Regions from separate parts of the Homo sapiens genome. Here region 2 is linked to region 1. The links come from fine-mapping of genetic effects on gene expression. A gene starts in region 1. The other region holds a variant in brackets. All regions are shown on one strand. Distances are from middle to middle.

Region 1 (4,539 bases):
GTTTGAGTTACATCCAGTTTGGTTTGCCCCATGGAGCAACACAAAGAATACATCTTTTTTTTCTGTGTAATAGCACTTCAAATATATGAATACATATACAAATATTACACTACATCCCTTTCATTTGTTTTTTCTTCAAACTAAATGTTTTCATACTTTTCTGCTTAAAAAATTAGAGTAGCTATGTTTGTTTTCTGTTTTCTTTCTGTAATTTTCTTTTCTCTCTGACTTTTCAGAAATCACCAATCACATACGTAGGTTTGTTCCCTAGTCTGTAACTACTGATAGCTACTGCTTATTTTAATAATATATTATTAATACTTATTAATCATGATAGTTAATTCTAATCATAGAAAATGCATAGTAAGCTTAACATTTTACTTTGTTTCAGGCATCAGTAAGTGTATTCCATTAAACATTTTGTTTAATCTTTACGCAATTATTATAAGGCAAGTGCCAACATTGCCTGCATTTTAAAGACAAGGACACATAAAAATGTGGGCACATAATTTGCCTTAATGTTCCCCAGCCTTGAGAAGTAAAACTAGATTTGAACCCAGTTCTGTGTGTTCCTCATGCCTGTGCTCTTAACTATTGCACTATTTTATCCTCCCCTAGGGTATCTTAGAAAATGCTGATCTCTCTTCCCTGTATGCTACAGAGTATGCTCAGTAGATCCTCTCTTCCCTGTATGCTACTGTATGCTCAGTAGATCCTTGATACTTGCTCTCACTTGGATTACAGCAATGTCTAATAGACTCAGAATGTTTCAAGCAACTGCCTGCCCCCTGTGTGCTGGGCACTAGTATTGCTAACACATAAGCACTGCACTTGAGAGGATGTTTAACTATAATATTCTCAGAAAGAGGCCAAAATCATGTTTATTTAATACACTAAATTAATAATTAAATTTAAACTAAGTTAAATTCAAATTATTGAATACAATTTAATAATGACCCTATGATATTTATTTTAATGGATTTAAATTTCTCCTAAAATTCACATGACATCTAAGCCAGTAAGAGTTGTTTTTGTTTTTGTTTCTTCCTATGTGACACTTTAGTAATGGACCCACAGAGAAGCGAACAACTCCCCACGGTTTCAGTGTTCATGCTTTTGGCTTCTCACCATTTGGCAGAAATAGGAAATTATACCTTTTTAAAACTAAAAGCCATATAACACCTTTGTTAATAACTCTTTAGTTTGGAAATGAATCTCCTTATAACTCAAACAAAGCAATACATTTATTCACAGAGAGCTATTTCTCATAGCATTTGATAAAATTAGTTTAATTCTAGCTAGACTTAGAATTGAAGTAAGCTTCTCATACTAGAAAACTGGATTCGGCCATAAATACTGGGCTCCCTTGTGCCATTTCCCCCACATTGGTAGCTGAGTTCCAGTAAAATCCATCCACCAGACTGGAAGAGGAAATACTACTCATTTATGCATTTAAATAAGATAGAACTAAAATAGGGTAGTTTACATTTTATTCTATGATCTCATACCCAATATAACAGAACCAAGATGAAATAAAATCACTTACCTGACAATAGTAATACAAAGATTATTTTTCCATACATCCTGAGATCACGAGCTGGCTCCTGAAGTTAGTGCAAAAAAACTACCAAAGACAACTGCAAGTGTCAGTGTCTGGCCTTAGCCTGCTAGCTGTTATCTTCCAGGCCCACCTTCCTGTGGCCATCATCAGCTGATAGGCAGGGGAGGCATTTTAAATGATGCAAGTTGTTAAGCGCCTGTTAATAAAGATACATGGATATCTTGGGGCTATGAAAGTGGTAAGTACAATTTTCACTGCAAGGAACAGGTGGCTACTTGTGATATTAACTTTGCATCAGTTAAGTGGGCATGGTAAGGTGGTAGACAGGAGCCACCCAACTGGACAAAGAACTGGACTGTGAATCTCTGAGGCCAGGGCACGTGCCAGGCTGAGGTAGCTGTTGTGGAGCCATAGACCTTCTCATTTCTAATGTCAAGACCCGGTGGTCCAGATGAAAGTGACTTCCTATATGTGAAATGAACATATTTGAGAAATTTAAATCATTTGAGTGTTCTGAGGTTCTGAAAGACTCCCAAACTCATGGTGAGTCACACAGCAATGTAAGAGACATGAGATGCAACAAATCTTTCAGTGAAAATAGAGTTTGAACTGAAGAGCTAGTGCTGTGCAGCTATGAAACCAGTGAGCTGTTTCTGTCTGAAATATACCTTGCTAAGTAAGCATAAATGAATACCAAGACAATAAATGAAAACAGTCAGAAACAAAACCCAACAAACCAAAAACCTTATCATTAAAGTAGGTTAAAATGAAAGGTATGGAAATGTGAGGAAGCTCAATTTTAAAGGGAGACAGAACAAAAAATATAAATTAGGTCTGAAATGGTTCAACAGAAGGTGACTGGATACTCCATCTAAATCATCTTACTTCCTGTAAGATTTTTGTGAAAGTCTTTCCTGCCTGACCCAGAAAATCAATTTGCTATGTAAGCAATTTGCCACATATATCATACTTACATATTTACCCAAAGTGTGGTTTAAAAAAATCATTTATGAAGCTAATGTTTGCAGATTCAGGAAACTGGACCACAGAGAAAAAAAAGTATTTACTGGATAAAAGATGGAGATAAGTATCAGCAGAGCATCCCAGAGAGGGAGGAGCCTGAGATTGAGGGACTAATGGATGGAGGGAGTGGAGATGCAGACTTGGGAGAGACGGAAGAATGAATGACACAGACGGGGTAATCTGAGCAGCAGGAAAAGAATCCAGAGTGCCTCTTAAGGCCCTGCCAATTCATGTAAAACAACTGCAGCAAATTTTATTAAAAACTTAAAATTAAACAATACATAATAATTTAATACCTTCCATAAATTCAGTGTTTGTTATGGCTGGATATCAGTTTGGGTTGCAGGAATTGTGCTCAAGAGTCAACCAAGTAAAGGAAATGTTGTTGATATTCATATAAGCAGTAAGAATTAATTCACATGATTTTATATTGACAAAGGGAGAGCGATTAGCATGAGTCTTAAAAATGCTATTTCTGAAAATGGGTAAATAAATGTCACTATTCTTACGATGGACTATTAGAGCAACTATTAAAATCATGTTTTCAAAAATAAAGATATGGAGACTCAGGATAAAATGGATAAGTGGAAAACAGCAAGATCTGAAAATTGTATATACACAAATAAAATCCTATTGGATTCTTTTTTTCCTGGGTTGTGCTATCTTCACCTGGAATACACCTACTCCTTTTTAGGTGGCCTCCAATTCTGCTTAGGGTCTTCATTGAATAGTACTTCCTCCACGAAGCCTTCCCTGACTTCCTGTCTTTGTCAGGTGCCCCTGCTCTATACTTGTGTGGTTCCATCTTCTTCCCTTATCACAGGACTTATTACACTACGTTGCAATCATTGTGTCTCCACTGGACTACAGTTTTTAAGTGGACACACCCTGACTATGGCTATCTTATTTACCAATGAGTGCTTGGGGCACACTTGACAATAAATATTTCTCAAATCAATAAATGACAAATGAATATTGCAGTGCAGAGGAAAGCAACTTCTCACGGGCAGTCCTGGGTGTATAGGCTGATCATTTTTTATATATCCTGCGGGTAACCTATGTCATATCCTAGCTTCAGGTTCCCTCCAGTATGGAGGTCCATTGCTAAGGCAGGAAGGGGAAAATGAAAAGGAAACTCAGCCTAAAATTCAGCTTTCATACCTTCTTCAGCCTGGACTGGTCAGAGTCTGAGAGTGCTTTCTTTTCCATGACCTCCCACTTTCCTTTCCTGCAGAATCACATCGTTAGCAATTCTCTAAACTCCTGTAGTGCTGACACAGGCCTGTTTATTAACACCTGTCTCAGGTTGTTGTGAACAATCTGTTCCTTTGTATTTGTGGGTCCTGTCTCTGTTGTTCTGTTTCCAGCATCTGGCACAATGCCCTATAGAGTACCTGGCCCTATTAAAGTAAGTCAAAACCTGGAGGGTTCTCAATGAGGAAATCAGAGGTCAGATTCAGCACCTCACACAGGGTGTGAGGAAGCAGTGCCGTACAGTGCTCTCTAGTGGCGTATCTGCACAATGGAAGGAAAAAATGTGAGCCCCGTAAATGCAACAACAAAAAAAATACATCAGATTACATTTTTCTCTTTCAGGCATTCCTTAATCTTCTTTAAATTTTTCAGAAATATTTTTACTGAAGTACACATTCATAATTATCATAAAATTCTACCTATGAGCTATATCATGCAAATTATTAGACAAATCCACATCTTTTAAGAATTTTGAATCTTTGCATAAAATAAAACAAGTACTTTTGAGGCATTTAATCAAACATAAAAAACTTATCCAATTTTCTTGATACTACATGTCTTTAAGCTATTTTTTGAATTGCCCGAGTCATTTCTATGACGTAGTTAAGAAGGATGAAGTTCAATGTTATAATCTAGGAAAGGCAACTTGGATCGATCAACACAAACTTATACCTTGCTTGTTTCATGACAGAGAACCATTC
Region 2 (4,000 bases), 91 kb after region 1:
GTGTACTAGAAGAGGAAACGTGCTGCACATTGGGACCCCAGGTCCTTTGGTTTAACCTGTCCTTTCTGAGGCGTGGGCATCCTGGAGTCCCTCAGAGATTTCTGACCCAGCCATCTCAGTAAGATCTGCTGTGTTCTGGAGGTGATGAGTGCTCTCCAGAGTTCATTTGAAAGTCAGGCCCTTCTCTACGTGCTCCTACCCCTGTGCCTGTCATTCTCTTTACTGTTGAGGAGGGACCTTAACTCCTGGCAGGTGAACTATAATTAAGATCAATGGATACTAAAGTAAGCCTATCAAAAATCTGGTTTTTGACAAAGATTTGAATAGAATTTGGTCCTTGCCCTCAAGGATCTCACAGTATGATAAACTTGTCTTTGCTTTTTAAATTACAGTGCCGTTTCAGCAGTCAGGCACCTTGGGTACTTGACTGAATCTTGTTCTTTTCCAATATATTTCACATGAGACTTCATGTTATCTTGGACAACCACCTAATGAGAGTCCAGGCTGAAGTCTTCATTCCCCTTCTGCATGTTCTCCGCTGTTGGCTTTGTTCAGACCCTTCTTTCTTCTCATCTATCCTACTGTAATGGGCTTTACATTTTAAACATAGCTTGAAATAACAAATCATGACTATAATACATGAAAACGGTTTGTATTTTGTTTTATTTTTATTTAGAAGTAGAGAATACAGTAATAGTGAGGCAGGAGAACAGGGAATTAGGATAGCCAGGGGTAGGGGCATAAGCAAAGGAATAGCAGGTGCAGCCAGTTTGCATAAACAAGAGAACAGCAGGTGCAGCCGGTTCTAGGCAAGATCAGGCAGCATGCAGGCCACATCCTCATGCCTGTGATAAAAAGACAAGAAGTTTCCACTTCAGCCTCTGCTTGACCATGAGCTAAGACTCCACTTCAGCCTCTGATTGGTCACAGGCCAATCCTTCACAGGCTGTAGCCAATTGGAGGCTTCTAAAGGGTACCTAGGGGTGTTGCCAAGTTCTTTTGGTTTTATAAAAACCCTAATTAGGGCCGGGCGCAGTGGCTCACACCTGTAATCCCAGCACTTTGGAGGCCAAGGCAGGTGGATCACTTGAGGTCAGGAGTTTGAAACCAGCCTGGCCAACACAGCGAAACCCCATCTCTGCTATTAAAAAAATACAAAAATTAGTCAGGCATGGTAGCCCGCACCTGTAGTCCCAATTACTGTGGAGGCTGAAGCACGAGAATCACTTGAACCAGGGAGGCAGAGGCTGCAGTGAGCAGAGATTGCGCCACTTTGCACTCGAGCCTGGGTGACAGAGGGAAACTCTGTCTCAAAAAAAAATTTAAAAAACTTTAATGATTCAAAAAAAATCACTGATGTTAAGAATTCATGGGTGGAAATTTGTAAAATCTGTTTCAGAACATGTGAGAATTAAGAAAGGCAAAAGTTTTATTTTATTTTTATTTATTTATTTATATATTTATTGAGACATGGTCTCACTCTGTTGCCCAGGCTGGAGTGCAGTAGCATGATCACAGCTCACTGCAGCCTTGATTTCCGAGGCTCAAGCAATCCTCCCACTTCAGCCCCCTGAATAGCTGATACTACACATGTGCACCACCAAGCCTTTCTAATTTTCATATTTTTTGTATAGACTAGGTTTCACCTTTTTGCTCAGGCTGGTCTCAAACTGCTGAGCTCAAGCAATCCTCCTGCCTTGGCCTCCTCCAAAGTTTTAAACATATGTAAATATATTATTTTAAATATTTTTTACACTAATAGGTTAAATACTATAAGAAGAATCTTAATATTTCCTCAATATCCATCAAAATATGTGAAAGCAAGTTAGACAAAAACTTAGGGAGATCTTTCATTGGGAAAATGGGGGACAGACTTATATTTAGAGGTTCCCTTTAATTGGGCAAATGCAAAAAAAAAATTCTGCTAGAGAAACACAGTGACTTCTATGTGTCCAGTTGAAAAAGATGGAATTTTATGCAGTTCTGTTTCTCTTCTGAGTTTAACTGAACTCAGAGGAATAAACCCTCCTAGAGCTGTTCACACTGGTATTTAGAGCAAAATTAAAAACTGAATTCTCACCTTTATCAGTCGGCGAATACTGTAAGAAATTAAGAGGATCGTTCCAATAATACCAGCCATCACACACAAAATAATGAGTATTATCACTACAGGAGCTAAAGAGAGCAGCAAAATTATGAAAGTCTGAAATAAATGACCACATAGCAATAGAAAAATAAGACAGATAACATCAGCATAACATCACCTTGCCTTTTAATACA[A/G]AGTACAGTTAACATACTATTATGTGTATTTTGTCTTTTTTTAAATTGTGTGCTTTACAGTAACCTTGTGGGAAACTGGGACTGTGAGTGATCAAGTCTTTTGTCCAAGGTCGCAAAATAGTTGATGACAGAACTAAGACCTGAGGCTTCTGATTCCAGACCCAGCGTTCTTCACTAGTGTAACTGTAGATAAGAACTCAGTGGACGTTCTCCTCAGATATGGGGAAAAAAACCCACAAATTCTCCCATAGTTTGGAAGTTATGAGAGAAAACAATGTCTTAACATATAAAAGAGCATTGAACAGATCATAGAATCATAATTTTGGAAAGAAACTGGTATAAACAGTTTACAAATGAAGAAAAGAAGCTGAATAAGGTTAACTTAGCCTTGGTCAGACAACTAGTTAAAAGTAGAATTATAACTATAATGCAGGTCATCTATATTCTAAGCTTTATTCCTTCCACAGTATTCTTATGCATAGTCTCCAATATAGTCACTAACAATGCTTGTTAAGTCATTTATATGTTGGGAATGAAACAATTGAAATCAATTAAGTAAGAGATATTTCCATATTTATAGCATATTTGTAGTACTTCCAGATGAAGTAAATAGAATGGAAGGCTAGACATACAGGTAAAATGGCTCATTTATTTGCCTAATTAATATTTAAATTATTCACAAAAAGTAAAAGTAGCATTTCCTCTTGCTGGTGTTGCCCAGCCTTCTTGACCACTTAGCTTGAATGTATGCGATAGTGATGAAGTTCTATGATGTGCTTTTTACCCTGTGAGCCATGGACACGGCCAAGTGTGAAGGGAGGGTTAGAATGCAGAATAGCAAATGAGCACACACAGTGATACTCAAGTGAGGGGAAGGGATGTCCCTTCAGCAGAGGTTGTCAAGATGGTCCCTAAGTGGTTGCATTGGGCCAAAAATGAATCAAGGCTGAGATTTACCCTTGAAATACAGTACCAGTTAATTAGATGATTTTAAATGCCTTGCTTTTTACATGAGGGCAGAGGGAACTTCACTTGTTTTATAAGCTCTTATGAGGCTTCTTTCAAGTACTCAGGGTTGGTTAGAAAGGTAAAACATCTAACTTAAGAGAAAAACTATTACCAAATTATGTATTTCTATTTCCAAATGTTTTTATTTATTTTTATTTACTTATGTATTTGTTTTTGAGACAGGGTCTTACCAAGGCTAGAGTACAGTGGCACAGTCATAGCTCACTGCAGCCTCAAACTCCCAGGCTCAGGCAATGGATCCGATCCTCCCACCTCAGCCAGCCTCCCAAGCAGTTGAGACTACAGGTGCATGCCCCATCCCAGCTAATTTTTGTATTTTTTGTAGAGATAGATTTTGCCATATTGCCCAGGCTGTTCTCAAATTCCTGGGCTCAAGTGATTAGCCAGGCTTGGCCTCCCAAAATTATAGGGATTATAGGCATGAGCCACGGCCCCTGGCCCCCAAAATGTTTTTAAAAATAAGAAATGCCTATTTTAATTTTAAAAAGAGAATATTTTCTTTGTCTTTACAATTTCGTGTGAATAAAGTTAACAACATATGCTCTTCTGTTTTAAGATAGACACATTTTCTTAGGCATTTGAAACAAGCAATGGATAGTTTAAAATGGAATGACTTTTATTCTTTGTCAAATATTAACATACCTGGTACAGTGAAACGATGGACAAGTTGTCCCGTTTCTCCTATAAAGCA

The links. PIP is the estimated chance that this variant, and not a neighbour inherited with it, causes the effect.
Region 2: its variant is the best candidate, but not a certain one, in a credible set for the expression of GYPE in whole blood (INTERVAL, PIP 0.63).

Annotation. Positions count from the first base shown.
Region 1 is chr4:143,903,925-143,908,463 of GRCh38, forward strand. It overlaps GYPE (glycophorin E (MNS blood group)), which reads right to left and starts at 1,635. Exons shown (of 4, transcript NM_198682.3): 1 at 1,547-1,635. The coding sequence starts at 1,583. All of the region lies in intron 9 of LOC105377459 (a long non-coding RNA gene), which reads left to right.
Region 2 is chr4:143,995,460-143,999,459 of GRCh38, forward strand. GYPB (glycophorin B (MNS blood group)) reads right to left here. Exons shown (of 5, transcript NM_002100.6): 3 at 3,952-3,990; 4 at 2,081-2,175; 5 at 645-845. The coding sequence ends at 840. Among named protein-coding and RNA genes, the nearest start is that of GYPB, 22 kb to the right of the region's middle. The variant A/G (reference allele first, on the strand shown) is at 2,281.